3 linked regions of the Homo sapiens genome follow. The protein of the gene in region 2 binds, or shares a complex with, the protein of the main gene of each other region. Each region holds a gene or a part of one and is shown on either strand. Other genes may lie near its edges. A codon is read from its position in the direction of its gene.

Region 1 (5,816 bases), on a different chromosome or scaffold from region 2:
GCATGACCAACAAAAGAAAAAAATGTACTTAATAAATAATTGTTACCTTTTATGCATCAAAGGACACAATTAAGAAAGGGACAAGACAATTCACAGAATGGGAGAAAGTATTTGCAAATTATCTGAAAAGAGACCTATACATATATATTTGCAGATGTGAGTGTGTGAGACTATATATATATACATATTGATATATATATATATCAATAATAAAAAGACAACCAAATTAATAATGGACCAATAATCTGAATAAATATTCCTCCAAAAAAGATTACACATGGCCAATAGATGCTTGACATCTTTAACCATCAGAGAAATGAAAATTAAACTACCAGGTACCATTTCACATCCATTAGGATGTCTAAAATAAAAAAGACAGGTAATAACAAGTGTTGAGAAAAATGGAGAATTCAGAACCCTTCATACACTGCTGGTGGGAATGTAAAATGATCTGGCTGTTTTGCAAATGTCCTGAAAAGAAATGAAAACTTTTTTACAAACAAAAACTTGCAAACAAATGTTTATAGGTATATTATTTATAATAACCAAAAGGTAAAAGCAAAACAAACATATCCATCAACAGACAAATGAATAAATAAAATGTGGTATGTTCACCCAATGGAATAAAAGGAAACATTGATACATGCCAAAACATGAATGAATTTTAAAAACATAAGTGAAATCATTTAGTCACAAAAGGTCACATACTATATGATTACAATCATATGAAAGTCTAGAATAGGGAAATCTGTTGAGACAGAATGTAAATTAGTGATGTTTATAGCTGAAATGAAAGTAGAGATAGAGGGATAGAGAAGTGATGGCTAAAGGATACACTGTTTCTTCTCAAGGTCATAAAAATGTAATGAAATTGGTGATGGTAGCGTGTCTCTATGGATGTATTAAAATATACTCTACTAATATACTAAAAACTGCTTTGAATATGAAGTATTATATGATATGTCAAGTATATCTCAATGAAGCTGTTAAAAAGTGCACTATGGTTCTAGATTTGTAAAACCAACTTGAGGAGGTCTATATTGTAATTAACACTCTCATGTACCTATCTCAACAATAGGCCAAACCTTATTAAACTAGCAATATTTTTAATCAAGAATATTCTTTCTTTGAGATTAGTATAATCACAAGGAGGAGAGATTATAAGAAAAAAACACAAGTGTTTTAAATGGGCATTTTCTCCAGAAAACAGAAAATGATGTACATTATTATTGATCATAAAAATAAAAATTAGTTATTAAGTGGAATGCAACTGATTATTGCCCTAAGGATAGAGTGGTTTTGCACTTATTTATAAATTTATTTCAACATTTTTAATATTCTCATATAGTGTGATATTTTGAATTCTCCTTTGAATTTTTGTAACATCTTACTTGTTCCTTCATTAATTAATGAGTTAAACGAAATCTTTGAAACATTTTCATTTTATATTTGTGTGAGAGCCATGAATATGCCCTCTTTAAAAATTACCTTTAAATACTTATTTTTCTTTCTAATATTTAAACAAAACTACAAAATGAAATATAGTAGATAAAGGAGATGAATTTCTGAACATTTTCTTATTTTGAGACATCCTTTTTCTTCTTTCAGCATAAGAAGGAGTTTGCATCCATTGTAGTATAGTTGGATTTTTTTAGTTTGAAAAACAAATCATGACTTTTTCTTAATTGGTTTATTGAATTCATTTACTGGTTTACTGAAGACTTTAAAGAGGGCAAAAGATATATTTTGTTAAGAGATTTGTTAATTTTGAGAAGTATCCCATTGATTACTGTAAGAATTATGTTTATAAATTAGATTATTTGGCACTGTAGTAAATATCAGTGAAAATAAACTTTAACTCATAACTTTAATATTTTCATACAATCAAAAAATAGAGATATACTCTAGGCATAACATAAATTGTTATAATTGATCAGAATATCTTGAATATATTTTTACAGATAACTAGTGGTTTCTACTAGCAGATTAAAACCAAGAGAAAATTAAAAGTAAGTTCACATTTAAAAAAAATTATAAGCAATAAATACAGCACTACAGCCACCACTAATTCTATATACATTGGATTACATTTAAACAAACACTGCATTCCAGAATGAATATTTTATGAATAAATGCATTGGAAATTAACTTTAGGAAATAAAATGACAAATTAGAATTTAGAAAATTAAAATATGACTTTCACAAGTAATCACAGTAAAATGCAGATCTACATTTTAAAAGCTAGAAATTTCCCCAAATTTATTTTTTTGACAGCAAAGAAGTTTGCTTTAAAAAAAGTGTCAGATTTACTTTGCTTTATGAGTATGATACAAAGATATTAAGTAGCATTTAGCTTTTGAGAAATCTAACATTTAAAACTATTCTAAAAATATATGGGTACAAAACTAACAGTGATTAATCATGAATGACTGCTACGCCTCAAGACTCTACAACAGACAAACCCTGGCTATAAAATAAATCTGATCTAGAATTAATATTATAAAAGCACAACAAAAATACTTGAAAATTACATGTTTATTTTAATATAATCTCTGATCATTCAACATTTTTTACTGTCACTTCTACTGTCAAGATGGTTGAGAGTTGACAGTTTGTCTAGAAGAAGGCTGATATATGTCAACATGGTCAGCAAAGGATTTAAATATGGGTCTTTGAATAATAAATAGCTAATAATTGAGTTTATTAAAATGAATTTTTGTATAATTTAGGCAGTTGAAGGTCTAGAACAGCCTGCGTTCCTTTCTATGGCAGCTTGCTATGAAATTCATGTTTCAAACAAAACAATACTTTTTCATGCATAGATAAATTATAAATGTACTGACCAGACCATTCTATATGTTAATTCTTACGAATTTAGATAATTTGTCTTAGCAATTTGAAATAAGTTCTGAACTCACCATCTATTGACATATTGACAGCTTAAGAAACAACTTATGATGAGTAATTTGTTTCATCCATTTTAATCAGATTGACACACTTAAAAAACAGATACCCATGACTTTTCCCAAAATTGACTTTTACTAATTGAAGTCATTCTTGTTCTTTAGAGATTTCAGCGGAAAATAACATTAGAGAAACTGAATCCCATGCAAATTTCACTTTAATTCATTAGCAAGGTTTTCTTCTATCTTTATTTAATAAAGTCTGACAATAATTCAGTAAGATCTGACAATAATTTTTTCTCAATGATATATTCAAGTATTTCCCTAATTTGTATTATATACAGTAGCTCTATTAAAATATTAAAGCATTGTATATGGTATATATAGTATCCTTCTAGTTTTTTATATTTCTTGAATAGCCTGGGACATTTCCAAAGCTATATATCTTCACATAGTAAAAGTCAGTAAAGTAATATTTTAATGGGGTAAAATCTATAAAAGTAGCAGATTGGTATTTATCACAGTAGTTGTTTAAAATTTCTGGATTAGAATGTGAGTTCATTGTCAAAATGAAAAAAGAAATATGTCAAACACACCTATTATTAAGGTATGAGTTATCAAAACAAATATATTCAATAAAATAGTGACCTTGTGTTTTTAAAATAAATATATCTTATGATAGATGTTTCTGTTCTCTTAGTTCTCAAACAGACTTCTGATGCTGGCATCTGGTTGTCTTTAAAATATTTACCAAATATAGCATTCCAGACTCTATTTTATTTAAAAAATCAGCCCAGATACAGTATCAGATATTAACATACACACATTGTTGCATTATATATTTGCTTTAAAAATTACATAGGTTGTATGTATTTGATTTGAGACTATAAAATAAAATAATGGAGTATTTACAAGCTCATTTTTCACAATTTCTTTTTACAAAATTCCAAGAAAATAAGAAATCCTTCATTGATTTTCTTTATATAAAATGATTGCTAATTTGTTTATACAGTAGAAATGGAAGGGACAAAATTTATATTTACAGCTAGGAATTCCCTCCCACTGTTTGGTAAGACAGGAAGAGGTTGACAAGGTGTTTTGTAGCATCAACTAAGATGTTTTCCTAATGATATAGAAGTAGGATTGCATATTATACATCCTGTTCATCCAGTTTCCACAATGGATATGCCACAAGATATAACTGATGTGTCAGCAAATGAGTAGATCATAACAATTGTACTCAGTTGCTTTTCATAGAGAAAAGAAAGCCAGCAGGGATAATTCACTTCTGGTATTGTCCATTTGAGAGGGTAGTTACAAAAAGGACTACGGCACTCTGGGCAAAAAAAAAGTCAACTGCCCCAATCAAGATGGGATAAAGAGTTTTAAAACTAAAAGCTAATTTTCCCTTCATGTTTATAGACCTTAGCTAGGTCTCTTGGGGCAATAAGGGTAGAATCATGCCCAACATGTATGTTTAGTTTTACAGCCATTTGTTTGTGAATTCATGCAATGGTGTGCTGGAACTGGCTTACACCAGCTCAGAAAAGTTGATTGTGCTTTTCTCCAATTCCACACTTGGTGATGTCAGGTTAGTAGCGTCACATCAGGCATAGTGGGAGTATTTACTGACAAACATTACAAACCAGGATTTCTTTTTTCCCACATAGAGCTGGATGTTACACTCTTATCAACACACTACTAATTTCATGTGAAGGCTCTTCTTTATGACATTCAAAAAGTCATTTAATATTGAAGTCTTCTGGCTACAGAGTCATGGGTCCAAGTCCTTGAGTTAGGAGAAGCACAAAACAGTGAGACAACCATCCTTCTATTTTCAATTATATAAATTTTCTGGTTTTAAGAGAACATTTTCAATATCATGGATGCTTTTTCCATTTAAGTGTTCACTAGGACAGTCATGACTATAACCTGGACCATCACTGATTGTTGACACTGTGTAAGACGCACTACGAAGAGCTTCTGAGTTGGAAAAGCTGTTTCCAAATTGGATTTTGTATTGATTCCAGTTTCTTCTCAGAATTGCTTGAACCTATCAATCAAAAGGAAAACAGAAAGAACAAGAACAACCCATTAATTGAAATGAAGACACTGTTTTTGAAGCACAATTAAATAGGTCTTGGAGAAGAGCTTTTTTAAAAAAAGTTATGTTAATCAGTGAATAATATAGCTTCATTTTCTTAATTTAAAAAATTAAGTGTACCATCTTCACATTAGGAAATGTATTACAATTACATTGTACTTTACATTCCATTAATATTTTTCATGGCATGTTTTGTCTTCAAAGCTTTTATAATTCATATGTATTTATTGTTGCCAAACAAATAGGTAATCTGGACCCCCATTTACAAGATTTCATGTGCAACATTGAGTTTTATATTAATGTCTTTATTAATAGAATGAGAAGACAATTCGTGACAGGATAAGCGAAAGATACACAAAAGAAAAGAAGTTAGGATACGAAGAATACAAATCAGCAGCAGCAGCAGCAGGGCAGTAGCAGCAACCTTTGTTTCTGAGTGACTCCCATATGCCAGAAATTGTGCTACATTCTAAAAAAGGGAGCATGATATTTGTCTTCATGGAGCTTACTACATAGAGGAAAGAAAAGTGTTGAACAAATAATTATAAATCTGGTGAATATTGTGAAAAATAAATTTAGGAATGTAACCACTCCATTTTTATATATTTGAATCCTCTTCTGCTGAATAAATTTGCAGTTTAATGACTTCCTTCCCCTCTGTTTGAAGCTAGAGATCAGGGGTAGGTGGGTCCTATACAGTAAAATATTGGTCATAATGGAATGTAAGGCACAAGAGTGAATTTTCTTCATTGTCAGTCAATGGGCACAAATGAGAACATTTAAATACATCTCTAGCTCAAGTACGTTGA
Region 2 (7,272 bases):
TAGGATGAGGGCAAGGGACATGGAGAGGGGTGGTGAACCTAGTAAAGGAAGCCCCCACTGCTTTCTCCCTCAATTGTGAGGGCCTTAGGAATGGATTCCTGTTGCTCAGTCAGGGTTCCTCTTCCCAGGCCCTGTGAGTAAACTGAAGCATGAAGAAGAGGAATAGTCAGGGCTCCTGGGCAGCCTCCTGCTCCTCTTGCAGGAGTCACAAGCAGAGATTCCTCCCTTGCCCCTTCCCCCACACCTCCCCAGTTGCAGGCCCCCAGCTGCTGTCCAGACCGGAAGGGAGTCTCTTCCTGCTTGTTTCCTGGAGCCGAGTTTGGATATAGGCAGGAAAGGCCCGCCTGGGAGGAAAGAATATAGGGGTGTGACCTTCATGGAGGCAGGGAGCAGGGGGGCAGGTGAAATGAACAGAACAATGGGCCATCCAGATTTTTCCAGTTCTACTACCCAGGGCTGAGGGCCTGTGGCAGTGGCAGGGAAGGACACAGGTTCCACTGAAATGGGGAGAAGGACATTGTACAAAAAAAAAGTTTTATTTTGAAGATTACAGAACTTGTGCCATGACCCCACCTGGCTTCCATTCCCAGCAATCCAGGGATCTGTGGTGGGGATGAGAGTGAGAAAAGGGAGTAGGAGGGGAGGAGGGAGGCCTGGTGGGGGTGGGGAAGTGGAGTAACATGGTTGTTGAGAAGCTCGTGGCCCCCTAGGCCTGGGCCTCACTGTCTTTACTCCTCCATACTACAAGAGTGATGAGGAAGGGGATGAGGCAGATGGGGGCTATGATCATGGCCAGGAGTACATCCTCTGGGGGGTCAGAGAAGGTGGGCTGCACCAGGGAGCAGTTGGCAAAGTGGATCTGGTGAGTCTCAAAGATGATCCTCTCTGCCAAGGGATTGGGGAAGCCCAGGTCAAACAACTCTGCAAAGTGCTCCAGGCAATCTCGCAGGGTGCTATAAGGCCTAGGGGCAGAAGAGGACTTGAGTGAGAGAGGGGGTGGACCCAGGGAGAAGAGTGCCCCACTCTCACTCAGGGTCTACCTGCAATGAGCAGGTCCACCCCCTGGCCTGAGCCACCCTCCATCACTGCCCCTACCTGCTAATCATGGCCCAGTCGCACCAATCCTTTTCGATAGGATCCATTTGATCCTTATAATGATTCCAGCAAAATTGGACAGCTGTCTCATAGTTCTTCACCGTCCCCCCTGTAGGTACAGATGCTACACAATGACCACACCCCTACCCCTCCCTACAAACCCTCCTGCCCAGGTGCTTGCAAGGTGAACTGCCTGTCTTCAAACGTGGGAACCCTTCAGAAAGTTTCCCTAGCAAAACATTCTGGCTGAGGACAGAGTCCCAGCTCAGGAATCCTATAATGACTTCCATGTGCTAAGCACTTTCCATCCCAGCCTGATAAGAACTTCCACGTACACCTTTTCCTGGGGTCTTCTCGCCCACTTGTGAGGTGGGCAGCTCAGAGCCGTGCAGGGGCTTTGTAGGAGGACAGGGAGAAAGACCACGAGGAACCCCAAGAAAGAACAGAGGGGAGTGTAGTGGGGCATCAGCTGGGGTTGGGCAGGCCTCGTGGGAAAGGAACCCTCCCCACTGAACTTGCTCTCGTCCTTACCCTCGGCCACCCTTCCACACCCTGGGTACCCACCTTCTGACCCTGGTGTGCCTGTGGTGGGAAGAGGCTGAGCCAGGGCCTCGTGGGGATTCAGGACAGCTGTGGGAAGAAACGGGAGAGGAGGGTAACATAGCGGGGACCCCGGCAGTGGAGCCTGCGAGGGGGGTTGGGGGACTGAGACCCTCCGAAAATAGGCTACCTTGGAAGAAAAGGAGGAATAATCTAGCCCCCACGGACGCCTCAGTGCCGGGGAGGGAGGGGCTGGCACCAGCTCCTTGTCACTCACACCCAGGCCCAAAGCCCCCTCATCTCTGGCCAGCTTCCGTCCTCCTAAGCCCTCTTCGAGGGGCCGGGGCCAGCACCCCAGCTTTCCCTGGGTGGGAAGCAGCTCATGCTGCGCCCGCCCCGAGGTGGGGTCAGGGACCGTCCGAGGGCCAGTGCTGCTAGGTACGTCGGTCCTAACCCGCACCCCAGGGCCCGTTCCGGCCTCGGCCATCCAGCCCCTCTCCCCTCTCCCCTCTCCCCTCCGGGGCCTCTCGCGCCTCCCGCCCGGGCCTCGGGGCGCCGCGCTCACCGCCCAGCAGGAGGAGGAGGCGGAGCGCTGCCGGCCGCCCGACTCGGGTCCTAGGGAGACGCGGGCCGCCGGCGCGCTCCACCCGGAGCGAGGCCATCGTGCAGCAAGGAGGCGAGGAGCGGCGGCGGCGCTGAGCCGGGCCCGGGTGTGGGGGCGCCTATATCCCCAGCCCAAGCTGCAGGAAGCCGCGCCGCTTCCTCGGAGGGGCTGGGACGGCGGCGGCCACGTGGGGGGCGGGGGCGACGCTCGGGGCCCGCGGCTGGAGGGGGAGTCGCTGCCTCACCCGCGCCTGGCGCCCGCGGCTCCCTCCGCCTCGCCGGCGTTGGCCCACCCTCTCGTAGCTCACCCCGCGAGGCTGGACAGCTCCCGGAACCCCGGAACCGGGATCTATTTCGGGGGCTCGGCTGCGTGGCGCCCAGGACTCTCCAGGGTCTCCCAGGATCGCTCCCCGAATTCGAGTCGCCCCCTCTCTCTTTCGGGTCTGGAGGGGTCGGCAAGCTGCTCTCCCAGACGTGGAGAAGAGGGAGGGGGCTGGGAGCTCCAGCGGCCTCTCGACGCCGCTGCTTCTAAGGGGCTGTCCTGGGTTGTGGGGGAAGGGGCGCCTGGAGCTGAGCCATGCAGCTCAGGGTTCCTTATCCTATCCCTAGGAATACCAGCTGATGTCAGTCCGCCAGCCAAAACCAGGGAGGAGAAGCGGGAGCCAGCCCTCTGGAGTCGGGAGAAGGTCTGGGGAGTGGGGTAGAGGGGAAAGCAAAGTCCAAATACCTTCCCTTCAGACACCTCCTGGGGCCTAGACCCCACAAACCTGTTGTGGGGAGGGCAAAATACGATGACTACGTTCCCAGGAAGAAGGTGCCACAGCTCTTCAGGACCACGGTTGGGAGAAAGAATGGAGGGGTTTTAGAACCTTCAGTGTGCGACTTCATGTGCCAGGTGAGTGTAACACCATTTTACAGACCGAGAAGCTAAAGCTCAGGGCCAACAGCCCGGGATTTGAATTCAGAAGCTCTGGGTTCTAATTCTGTCTTCTTACTCCCCAGCTATAGAGCCTTGAATGACACGTTTACCTTCAGGACTTCTCATGTGAAATAGGGACATTCCCCTCCTCACTGTATGATGGCAGCTGTGAAAGGGCACTGCACTCGCTAAATGCTAGTTTCCTTTCCTCTTTTCCTAAGTGACTTATCTAAGGTCACACTGTTAAGGAAGCAGCAAGGCTGAGTCTGGGCCTCCGGGGGTCCTGACTTCAGCCACACCACAGCTGCTTCTTGTGTCCTGGGCCAGAGGTTCATTAGTCTGAAGCAGCTGAGGAGCCCAGGAGCTGGTTTGGCCATGACGTTCAAGTCCCAGACACAGCTGTCAGCACCAAACTTTCCTAAATTACTCCCAGACACTGACCCTTGGACTCAGCTGCTGCTGTTGTCCCAGTTTACTGATTCCTGCCCACCACAAATTATCTGTCCTGATCTCTCCTGAAGTCTTCATCTCAGGATCTCAAGCTCTTGGATCATGGGCACGGATAACCTGTTGTCCTCCTCTATGGTCAAGAGGCTGCTTTTGCAAAGAATCCAGTGGGAGAGAGTCAATGGCCTGCTTGACGTGAACTCCAAAGTCCTCCTGGTAAGGATCATTTCTACAATGATGCAGAAAAGAGCCATGCAGTCTCTGAGACATTTCAGGCTGGGACCAAATCTAGTCCTTCCTGCCTGCCTAGGATTGCTCCTTTCAAGAAGGAAGCATGGGAGATTTCTGAGTGATAAGATGGGAGGAAGGAGCAAGGAGGTGCAGAAAGCAAAACAAGCCATTTTCACTGGGTTGGGGCCAGAAGCACATGAGCCCACTATGGGTTAGGACTGGGGTTGGGGTCAAGATTAAAGGGGACAAAAGCAAATGTTAGATTTAAAATAGAGCCTGGGCAACATAGTGAAACCCTGTCTCTACAAAAAAAAAACTATAAAAAAATTTTTAAAAAATTAGCCTGGCATAGTGGTGTGCACCTGTAGTCCCAGCTACTCGGGAGGCTGAGGCAGGAGGATCACTTGAGCCCCAGAGGTTGAGGCTGCAGAGAGCTGTGATTGTGCCCTATCTCAAAAAAAAAAAAAAAGGACAATATGGCATAATGATAATGGATAATCATAACGGATGAAAGAAAAAAACTGATGAGGATTCTGAAGGTAGGTTCTGCCTCTGTCTTACTGCAAGTAACTTGAGCAGGTTATTTCACATCTCTGGAGCTCAAGATTTTCATATGTAAAATGGCCTTAAGATCAAAAAAGAAAATATAGGTAACTTGGTAGGAAGTTCCTATTTTATTTTTATCTTACTTTACTTTTTAGGAACAGGGGCTCACTCTGTTGCCCACATTGGAGTGCGGTGGAAGAATCATGGCATGCTGCAGTCTTGAGCTTCTAGGCTCAAGAGATCCTCCTGGTTCAGTCTCCCAAGTAGCTAGGACAGCAGGCATATTTTTTGTAGATATGGGGGTCTTGCTTTTTTGCCGAGGCTGGTCTCGAACTCCTGGCTTCAAGCAATCTTCCTGCATCAGTCTCTTAAAGTGTTGGGATTCCAGGCATGAACCACTGCACCTGGCCCTTGGGAAGTTTTATTTTTAGCCTAGGGTTGGGGTTAAGTTTGCATCATGATGTTGAGACCTCCAAAGGAGAACTTATTGTAGTCATTCCTGAGCTCAGGTGTCCAAACTGTCTAATTGGAGAATCTGGGAATTTTCTCTCGTTTTGATTTTCCTCTTCCACTTTTCCATGCCAGTTGGATGTTTGAATGTTTTTATCGACCTCTGAGAGCATCCGGGTAACTGAGGGTTTACTTTGGGGGTCTTTGGAGATGAATAGGGACAGGAGACCTCACCTTTCTTTTCCATGTAGCCATAGGAGATAGTCCCACGATCTGATGATCTGTAGCAATGGGTAGAGGAAGGGCCGTATTAGGAACAGAAGCTAGTTTCGTCATGGGAAGTCCCCTGTTTTCCACTCCTGAGGGCCCTCACATTCCCTTTCTAAGCCCCTTTCTGCTTTTGCTATTAAAAAATACAGTTTTTAAATTGCAAGTAATATGTAAGTATATACTTGTTGCAAAATATTTAACCCAGAAAACTTTGTATCCCCACTCATATCTCATTTCCCACATATTCTGGATTTTTTTAAAGGAAAGCATAAATGGGATTTGATACTCCTATTATTCAGTGACTTTTTTTTTTCTTGAGATGGAGTCTTGCTCTGTTGCCCAGGCTGGAGTGCAGTGGCGCCATCTTGGCTCACTGCAACCTCCGCTTCCCAGGTTCAGGTGATTCTACTGCCTCAGCCTCCTGAGCAGCTGGGATTACATGTGTACGCCGCCACATCCAGCTAATTTTTGTATTTTAGTAGAGACAGGGTTTCACCAGGTTGGCCAGGCTTGTCTTGAACTCCTGACCTCAAGGGATCCACCTGCCTTGGCCTCCCAAAATGCTGGGATTACAGGTGTGAGCCACTGTGCCTGGCCTCAGTGTCTTTTAAAAAATGTGATACTATTGCTGGGTATGCAGCTCATGCCTGTAATCCCAGTTACTCGGGAGCCTGAAGCAGGAACTTGAGCCCAGGAATTGGAGACTAACCTGGGTGATATAGCGAGACTCTGTCTAAAATAATAATAATGATAATAAAGAAGCCAGGCACAGTGCCTCACACCTGTAAACCCAACACTTTGGAAGACCAAGGCAGGAGGATCACTTGAAGTCAGGAGTTCAAGACCAGCCTGGGCAACATGGCAAGACCCTGTCTCTACAAAAAATAAAAATAAATTAGCCAGGCTTGGTGGCACATGCCTGTAGTCCCAGCTCCACAGCAGGCTGAGACAGGAGGATCCCTTGAGCCCAGAATTTTAAGGCTGCAGTGAGCCATGATCATGCCACTGCATTCCAGCATGGGCTACAGAGTGAGACCTTGTCTCCAAATAGAAAAAGAAGAAAGAAAGGAAGGGAAGGGGAAGGGGAAGGGGAAAAAGGAAGGAAAGGAGGGAACACTTAGTAACATGTCTTGGATATCTTTCCATGATACTACATATGTATGTATGCCTCTTTCTTTTTAACTGTACGTAGTATTGCCTTTAGTCTTTTTTTTCCTTATGTCCAGTGAAATCTAGGGGGTTTTCTTTGTTTGTTTTTTATTTATTTATTTTTGAGACAGAGTCTTGCTCTGTTGCCCAGGCTGGAGTGCAGTGGTGTGATCTTAGCTCACTGCAACCTCCGCCTCCCAGGTTCAAGCAATTCTCCTGCCTTAGCCTCCCAGTAGCTGGGATTACAGATGCCCCCTACAAGGCCCAGCTAATTTTTGTATTTTTACTAGAGACAGGGTTTCACCATGTTGGCCAGGCTTGTCTCAAACTCCAGACCTTAAGTGATCTGCCCACCTTGGCCTCCCAAAATTCTGGAATTACAGGTGTGAGCCACCGGGCCTGGCCTGGAAATCTAGTTTGTTTGTTTTTTTGGTTGTTTGTTTGTTTTTGAGATGGAGTTTCGCTCTTGTTGCCCAAGCTGGAGTGCAATGGTGCTATCTCGACTCACTGCAACCTCCGTCTCCTGGGTTCAAGCGATTCTCCTGCCTCAGCCTCCCGAGTAGCTGGGACTACAGGCGCCCACCACCACGCCCAGCTAATTTTTGTATTTTTAGTAGAGACAGGGTTTCACCATGTTGGTCAGGCTGGTCTCGAACTCCTGACCTCAGGTGATCCACCTGCCTCGGCCTCCAAAGTGCTGGGATTACAGGCGTGAGCTACCGCCCCCGGCCATACATCTAGTTTTTACATTTCTTACACATTTCCTTATTCCTCTGCCCCCACCCCGCACCACCTAGGGCTTGGAAAGAGAGGGATCTGGTTCTTGTCCAGCTGAACATTGTCCTGAGACTTCTGGCCCCAGTGTAGGTTAATTCCTCATGAGCAGGGATCCTACTACCATCCTACTGCCACTTCCTTTCTTGTTACAGGCCAAGGGTCATCCTGCCTGGAGCAGGGCAAGAGGTGACTTGACCCTTAGGAAGAGTGGCATCTCTAATCTTCAACTTCCACCACCACCACAC
Region 3 (7,027 bases), on a different chromosome or scaffold from region 2:
TTCAGCTTACACTAAAATATTTTGGAGGAAAAGGATAAGAAGATTTTCTTTGAGCCCTGAGAAAGAACTTTTTCCAAGTGCTTGCTTTGTGGTGTCTGCTGGTTCCCATCAGGCTTATTATTTTTTCAATTATTTTTGTGTGATATATTCAGTGCTGGTTACAGTATGATAAAGCCTTGCTGCTTTTTTTATTTTAATTTTTTTAGGCAGTGTATATGTATCAGTACAAAGTAAAGTTCCAAACTTGATAGAAATAATAAGTTCTCATGGGGATGACTCATATCTTTGCTGAAATTCACACTAAAATATTAGGCCACCATAGCAACTACAATAATTTTTTAAAATAACATTTGATAACTTAAAATATACCAGACCCTACATCAAGTGCTCCATCTTAAAAATAAATAAGAAAACTTCTTTGTTCTGTATTTTGCTTAATTATTAACTGAGTATATATCTGAGATTCTGGGTAAAGTGCATGAGGCTGGGAAATCACATCAATATATATTGGGAGTAAAAAGTGGTCAGAATGGTGAGATAATATTTATCAAGACACTATTATCAGCAGGATAAACACACTGTAAAACTAGTATAATTGTTAGCAAACAACTAAAATGGCACTGAAATAAAATTAGAATTTGGCTGGATTGTCTAAAAAAAACCTCGCTTTTGTATTATAATACTGGTCAACAATATTTTAATTTGGTACTGGGACTCTAGAAGGTGAAATCTCATAAATGATCAAGGTTATCTACATTCCATTCCAGTGACCTAAAGAATTTTAGATAATGTTGTTAGCTACAAGATAATATTTAAATTCTAACCTCTGAATTGGCCAAGCAACTGAAAGAAAAAATCAGGTTGAATTAAATAACATAGAAATAATGAACAAGTAAACACTAAAATGAATGTACTTGCCAAATTTAATCTGAGTTATTCAGATACTCTCCAGTTCTTCAAAGCACCCATTCGATGTGTTTATTGTCTGAGAGATCAAATAGCAAGCCTAGATTGGTATAATATGCAGGGAGATTTTGCAAGTGTATTTGGAATCTTCACAAAATTTTAATCTTTGATCATTTCTCAGGGAAAATATTTTTGAAGCATTTTTCTATGTTAACAAAGGCAAAGCATTGTTGTACGTATAGATAATGCTTTTATAGATGGCTATGTTCTTTTTTAGCACAGGATGTGGAAATCAGAATCATATGGTAATATTTGAAGAACACTGCTATTGTTTAAAAGGCTAAGGAAATAACATACTAAAGAAAAGAGAAACTTATTGGGCTGAAAAATCACTGAGATCTGATAATATTTAAAATAATTTTCTATTAGTAGTTTTGGTTACTCAATCTGCTAAGAGCTAGTAAAAAAATCCTTTCAACTTGGCAATTTTTAGGTATAATTCATCATTTTTTATTGTATGACCAAAACAGGTCTTATTGAACTAAATGCAAGATTTAAACTGCAGGTTATAGAGTTATTTGTATGTTTAATTTTTATTTAAAATGGATGAAAAAACATTTTTTCAAGCAAAAGATGTTTTCAAGCAACCTATTAGAATCATTACTGCTTCATGTAAATCTGTTACAAAGTTAAATAAGAAAACTTAAAACTGTAAATTTACTGAGATAGCCACTAGACAAACCCTATTTAAAGCATCTCTATTGGACATTAACAACATGTGAAAAAGGATTAGCACTAATCAGCACAAAAAATTGATGTTGAAAATTTGTCGATTATTTTGCTAATGTTATTTGTCAATGACAACCCTTCCAAGCTTACTTGCAATTTTTAAAAGTGGCCACAATTTATATTTATTAGATTGCAGAAAGTAGTTTTTTTTTTAAATAAAATGAATGTAATTTGGTTTCAATGAAGTTATGCAGCCAGGTATGGGAAAATATATTGTATGCAGAGAGATACTACTCTTAAAGAAGGTCATTCCACTCATGAACAAGGCCATAGCAAATGGTATTTTTTGTTTTGTTTTAACTAAAGTCTGGATCGAGTCATTTCTTGGTTTTAACTGTTATAACTATCAAGAATTTGTCCTACTTCACCTGATGAGTCTTTCAATACTTGAAGAAAGGATTATGTTTACTCTGGGACTTCCCTTTAGAAACCAAACACCCCCATTATTCACTCCCCACAGATTTTCCGCTAACAGCCTGGAGACTCTCCACATGTGCTTTGATAATTGATATTTCTCTCTAAAATACTCTATGTGTGGACTGACCCATGAAAAGTACAATGTGCTTCTCTCACTCCAGATTCACGCAGGGGAACTACTTGCAGATTCCGAGGTCCTGTCCCTAGAGATTCAAATTCTATTGATCTGGACAGGGGTCAGGCATCTGCATTTTTCATAAGCTCACAATTTTTTTTTTCATTTTGTGAAAGGGCATCTGGGTTGAGAATCACCGTCCCAAACCATATTTGGACCATTTAATGGCTCTGTGCCATTAAAATTGTTTGTTTGTCTTCAAGTGCAGGGCTGTAAATGCTTCCTTGTTAAATTTTGCTTTTTACATTCCAGCATATTCCTTCAGAATGTCAGCCTCTTTTGAATTTCAATACAGTTCTTCACTCTTTCACTATCTTTTACCAAGTACTTTTTCCAAAGTGAAACAAACCTCTGGCATTTCATTAATGTGTTTTGTACATCATTAAGATGTAAGCTTTAGGTCAATAAGAAAATCCTGAAGAATTTAAGTTTGGTATGTGTGTGTATGTGTATATATATATTATGTTATGTATATGTTTATAATTTAAGTTTGGAATATATGTATATATTTCAGATACACTTTTAAAATGAATTTATCCTGCAGCTGAGAGGTTTCTGTATAAGAACCAGGCTGAAAAGATGGATCGATGCCTGTAAATCTCTGATTTTTTTATCAAAACCTTGCCTTGTAGTCACTATTTATATCCACTTTGGCAAGAGCCCCATTGTTACTTTGGAACTGGCCTAGTAGCCTCAATTGCACAACAGCTCTTCGTGCCAATCAAGTAACTTCTAATGTAGTTGTCAAATCAAGATTAATGAAGCATCATTCATTGGGAAGAGTCAATAAGGGCCTGAAGGATTATCATCAAATAGCATTTAGTTAGAGATTCCAGGAATGTAGCTGATTTAGGGCACAGCACAAAGCCCTTTCTTTCTTCACATCCCAACTTTTCCATCACAATGGGAATTCCCAGAAGTGGCTGGCCTGCACTGGTTTTAAAAGAGGTCCTCTGCAATTCCACTTCCATTATCTCTGCCTTACTGAGGTGAAATTTTGTTTTCAGGGACAGATTAGATCTTTCACTCTGGAAGGAAGCACAAAAAGCATTTTTCTAACATTGTTTCAGGGGTAGACTCATTTTTCTTCTTTAATTGGGATTCTAGAGCCACTTAACCCCTGTAGGCTCAGGCTCACTTTACTCTTGGGAACAAATTTCACCCATTAACAGGGACCTATATGTTGTGCCCATAGCTAATCCATTTAGTTTCAGCATCTGGGTCTCCTTCATAATTAAGATTTCTACCCCTTTTTCAGTGAGACAATTGAAAAATTTTTAAAACTCACATTTAAATAAAACTATTCACAGAGTTTTAGAAAAGCTATTTTTATAAACCAGAATTTAATACCAACACATATAACTGACCAGCAACATGACTTAAAAAAAAGGACAGCTTGTAATATTTGTACAACTAAGAAGTATTTCAATTAAGGAAACACTTCAGAAGTTGCTAAAATGTGGAGTATGATTAGGTGGGTACATTTTGTATCTGATTTTCTTCTCAAAACCATGAAAACTCTAAAAGCTTCATAGCAAGAACATAAAATGAAAATAAACACTCTACCTGATGGATCAAAATCCGGAAAATAATCTGGGCAGAACTGATAGGACAATACTCCAGCCGGTGTGTCATCCCAGCACAGCCATCCATCCCAGGTGCGATTGCAATATGGACCTGGCCATTTAGAAGGAAATTGATATTGAAGCCTTGTGGATTTAACTAAATGAGAAGATTGATCCCAAGACGATATTACAAGTAGCTGAGCTCACTACACCAGTCATAACCAACCACATTTCAAACAAGCCAAGTCATTTATTTTGGAAATAAAGTTTCAAATAGGCTTAGCATATCTGTGACCAAATTATCTCATTGGATGACAAGCAGGGTTCTATTTCTACTTTGTAAAAGGTTCCAAAGTTGAGTGCATCAAAAAAGCAAATGCCCCAAAGACTGCAAGACCCTCTCTCAAAAAAAAAAAAAAAAAAAAAAAAAAAAAAAAAATTCTACCTAAAACCATGAAGATTTACTTCTATAAAGGTATGTATTCAAAAGAATCAGATCCAGGCTTTCAAGAAAGCTCTCAAAAATTATTTAAAAAATGAAAAGAGCTCTCAGAAAACCCCAAAAATATCAGTTCTGTGTTTTTATTGTCTCACTGGCTTCAACGAAATTGTTTCTCCTTTGGTCAGAGTTATGTCTAATGCCTGTTCAGTTCTTGATAAACACTGAAATTACTGCAGACAGAAGAATAATATGTATCTGCCTTTCAGTTGACTTGATGTTTTTGTTTAAAGGAAAATGGTAAAAATAAGAACTACAAACTAAAACTTGAACTATTTGAAAGCAAAGAATGTGCAGTAACAGAGTATATTTTACCATTTTTTTCCCTACCAAGTTGGGTTGTCTTAAAATGTACATGGTAGTAGGCCAGATGCAGTGTCTCACGCCTGTAATCCTAGCACTTTGGGAACCTCTCCTGAGCCCAGGAGTTGGAGACCAGCATGGACAACATGGCAAAACCCCATCTCTACAAAAAAATACAAAAATTTGCTGGGCATGGTGGCATGCACCTGTAGTCCCAACTGCTCAGGAGGCTAAAGTGGGAGGATCGTCCTGGGCGAGAGAGTGAGACCCTGTCTTAAATATATATATATATATATATATATAGTAAAAGATCTTATTGAATCTTTTCAAATGCCTCAGGGGACAAGTAGGAGAATTTAAAGGGATGTTGCAATGAGCTTGCCCATCACATCTCCCCTTTTGTTTTTCTATGGGTCCTCTACAGCTAATAGAATATGTTTAGACCTGAAAATATCTGGGCAGTCACATACAGCCATTCTAGAGAAGCTGGTAGATAAACAATGTCTGGCTAGGAGGTACCTTTTTGTAATTCTCCTGGAAAGTGGGGCCAGAAAGTGTGGAAGAATAGTATGGGTTGCCAACCAATTGACAGTTAAAGGGAAGATACTACCTAATTAATCCAAGCAAGATAGGGTTTGATAGGGTCCACCTCAGGCAAATTCTCTGCCCTCTATTTTCCAATTCCCTTTCCTGTCATTTTGTACATCCCCTCCCTCACTCGGTCCTTTACTGTTCCGGCTCACCAGGTGTGAATACTGAATTATTGCGGTAATTTTATCATGAGGGCAGATGTTAGCCAAATTGCAGTCAGATGAACTTGGGCAAAGAAATTAGGCATATGCACTGCATGAAATACACAAACATACCATAGTGTGAAAACTGCTGTGAAAACTGCTGGCATATTAAATTAAAATTATTCAACACATATTTAACCACAAAAGAAAATGTCTGTAATGGTGTTTCAAACATATGTTCATATATATCCTTCTCTTTACCTTCTCCTTGGTATGCGGGTAACTGCTGCATTCGGTCATAGCATTTGTACTGTGCATCCATCATCTTCTTTCGTCCTACGACGTAAAGAAATGGCTTGGGCTCTATTGTTGGATAGGTTTGATTTGAAAAGGCAGGAAGAATTGGGGTTGGGTGCTGTATTAAAAAGAAAAATCAGTTACTTATAGACAGGAGGAATGGGTGAGCACAAATAAATGAGACAATGAAAAAGTTTGAAAACATTTATTTTTGCTCTCTAAGCAATACTTATTCATGGTCTCTATGTACAGTTTTTTTCATATATATTACAAAAAATGTTTTCACATTTCATCTACAAATTCTACTGGCACATTTTACATTTGCATTAGTTTCCATTTACTATTGAAAATGGATAACACCTACACACTCATATACCTCTTTATCAGCTAGGATTGTTTTAACTGTATTATGATTCTAAAGTTTAGAAGTAAACAAAACAAATAATCTAATTTCCAAAAAATACAAATATGAAATCAACTTTGCCTTACTCTTAAGAATCATGAATCATGTTATTAAAAAATAGACATAGTTCAATAAATATGCTTTTTTATTTGATTCTTTCAGCTAAATTTTATTGGTGCTGTGTACACTGCCAGAAATTTATCCCATCTATTCCATGGAACAAACAAAATATGTTTTCTGCTCCTCATAATTGACCATAATCTCCTTAAATTGGTTTCAACAGCAGATGACCTGTACAGGGCAATTCATGTTCACTAATGAAAAATCAATGTATTTCTTAGATATTTATCTCAGCACATTTGCATTTTGGTACAGATTGACAATAGTTTTTTTCAGTTTCAGTTAATCATCACCATCACAAGCCTCTCTTTTTCAAAGGTAATGTGGGTGTTTGAAAAGATCACTCTGTCACACTGTTCTTCCTAACTTGTGTTTATAAAGATTTCAATTTCTTTTGTGGCTATGACCAATGTTTTTAGTGGTGTTGGAATCTGCGAATTTTTAATATCCATGTTCTGCATAGAGATTTTTTTTTCTTTTTTTGAGGAGACCTAAAAACATCAGCCTGCACTGACTTTCCTTTTTCTAAATTTAGGAATGCTGCTTAATTTCTATCATACCCGTTGAAATTTCAATTCTAAGATTGAAGTTTCTCCAATTGTATTGATGGCAGAAGTGGTGTTATGTACTCTTCTATATGTGCTAGTTTCTAAACAAAACTCATCCCTATTAAGTTGACATGTATATTCCTGGCTCTTCATGGTGAATCCTCACTGTTTTCCATGTGTGTCATTGTATATGTCCTACACGACAGCACATCACTAACTGCTAAGCTGTCCAGCACAGAATCCAATCAAAATTCAGAGTTTGGAGAGAGTA

What was found. The genes of interacting proteins can lie anywhere in the genome.
Region 1: the proteins of RAMP2 (region 2) and CALCRL are in contact, whole or in part, in a crystal structure (PDB 3AQF), measured with the Homo sapiens proteins. Residues at the interface, in NP_005845.2 of Homo sapiens: Trp86 (codon at 1,112), Ile89 (codon at 1,103), Tyr93 (codon at 958), Ser94 (codon at 955), Arg97 (codon at 946), Leu109 (codon at 910), Gly110 (codon at 907), Pro112 (codon at 901), Glu117 (codon at 886), Ile120 (codon at 877), Phe121 (codon at 874), His124 (codon at 865), Gln125 (codon at 862), Phe128 (codon at 853), Ala129 (codon at 850), Cys131 (codon at 844), Ser132 (codon at 841), Leu133 (codon at 838), Val134 (codon at 835); in NP_001258680.1 of Homo sapiens: Arg38, Asn39, Ile41, Met42, Thr43, Gln45, Tyr46, Glu47, Tyr49, Gln50, Lys51, Ile52, Met53, Gln54, Trp69, Asp70, Gly71, Arg119.
Region 3: the proteins of RAMP2 (region 2) and CALCR are in contact, whole or in part, in a cryo-EM structure (PDB 7TYX), measured with the Homo sapiens proteins. Residues at the interface, in NP_005845.2 of Homo sapiens: Trp86 (codon at 1,112), Tyr93 (codon at 958), Ser94 (codon at 955), Arg97 (codon at 946), Asp98 (codon at 943), Glu101 (codon at 934), Leu109 (codon at 910), Pro112 (codon at 901), Glu117 (codon at 886), Ile120 (codon at 877), Phe121 (codon at 874), His124 (codon at 865), Phe128 (codon at 853), Cys131 (codon at 844), Pro136 (codon at 829), Phe138 (codon at 823), Ser139 (codon at 820), Asp140 (codon at 817), Pro141 (codon at 814), Leu146 (codon at 799), Met149 (codon at 790), Ile150 (codon at 787), Pro153 (codon at 778), Ile154 (codon at 775), Leu156 (codon at 769), Ile157 (codon at 766), Leu160 (codon at 757), Ile161 (codon at 754), Leu163 (codon at 748), Val164 (codon at 745); in NP_001158210.1 of Homo sapiens: Arg45, Lys46, Met48, Met49, Asp50, Gln52, Tyr53, Lys54, Tyr56, Asp57, Met59, Gln60, Trp76, Gly78, Arg126, Phe235, Leu238, Ile242, Thr246, Val250, Glu255, Lys256, Gln257, Arg258, Trp261, Tyr262, Leu264, Leu265, Phe269, Pro273.

Annotation. Positions count from the first base shown.
Region 1 is NC_000002.12:187,341,444-187,347,259, forward strand, and holds the end of CALCRL (calcitonin gene-related peptide type 1 receptor precursor), read right to left. Parts: intron 4,957-5,816; coding exon 4,741-4,956; 3' UTR 521-4,740; downstream 1-520. UniProt on the Homo sapiens protein: G protein-coupled receptor which specificity is determined by its interaction with receptor-activity-modifying proteins (RAMPs). Together with RAMP1, form the receptor complex for calcitonin-gene-related peptides CALCA/CGRP1 and CALCB/CGRP2.
Region 2 is NC_000017.11:42,756,287-42,763,558, reverse strand, and holds RAMP2 (receptor activity-modifying protein 2 precursor), read right to left. Parts: upstream 2,333-7,272; 5' UTR 2,298-2,332; coding exon 2,201-2,297; intron 1,726-2,200; coding exon 1,660-1,725; intron 1,205-1,659; coding exon 1,096-1,204; intron 963-1,095; coding exon 707-962; 3' UTR 518-706; downstream 1-517. UniProt on the Homo sapiens protein: Accessory protein that interacts with and modulates the function of G-protein coupled receptors including calcitonin gene-related peptide type 1 receptor (CALCRL) and calcitonin receptor (CALCR). Required for the transport of CALCRL to the plasma membrane.
Region 3 is NC_000007.14:93,473,705-93,480,731, forward strand, and holds part of CALCR (calcitonin receptor isoform 2 precursor), read right to left. Parts: intron 5,804-7,027; coding exon 5,650-5,803; intron 3,965-5,649; coding exon 3,854-3,964; intron 1-3,853. UniProt on the Homo sapiens protein: G protein-coupled receptor activated by ligand peptides amylin (IAPP), calcitonin (CT/CALCA) and calcitonin gene-related peptide type 1 (CGRP1/CALCA).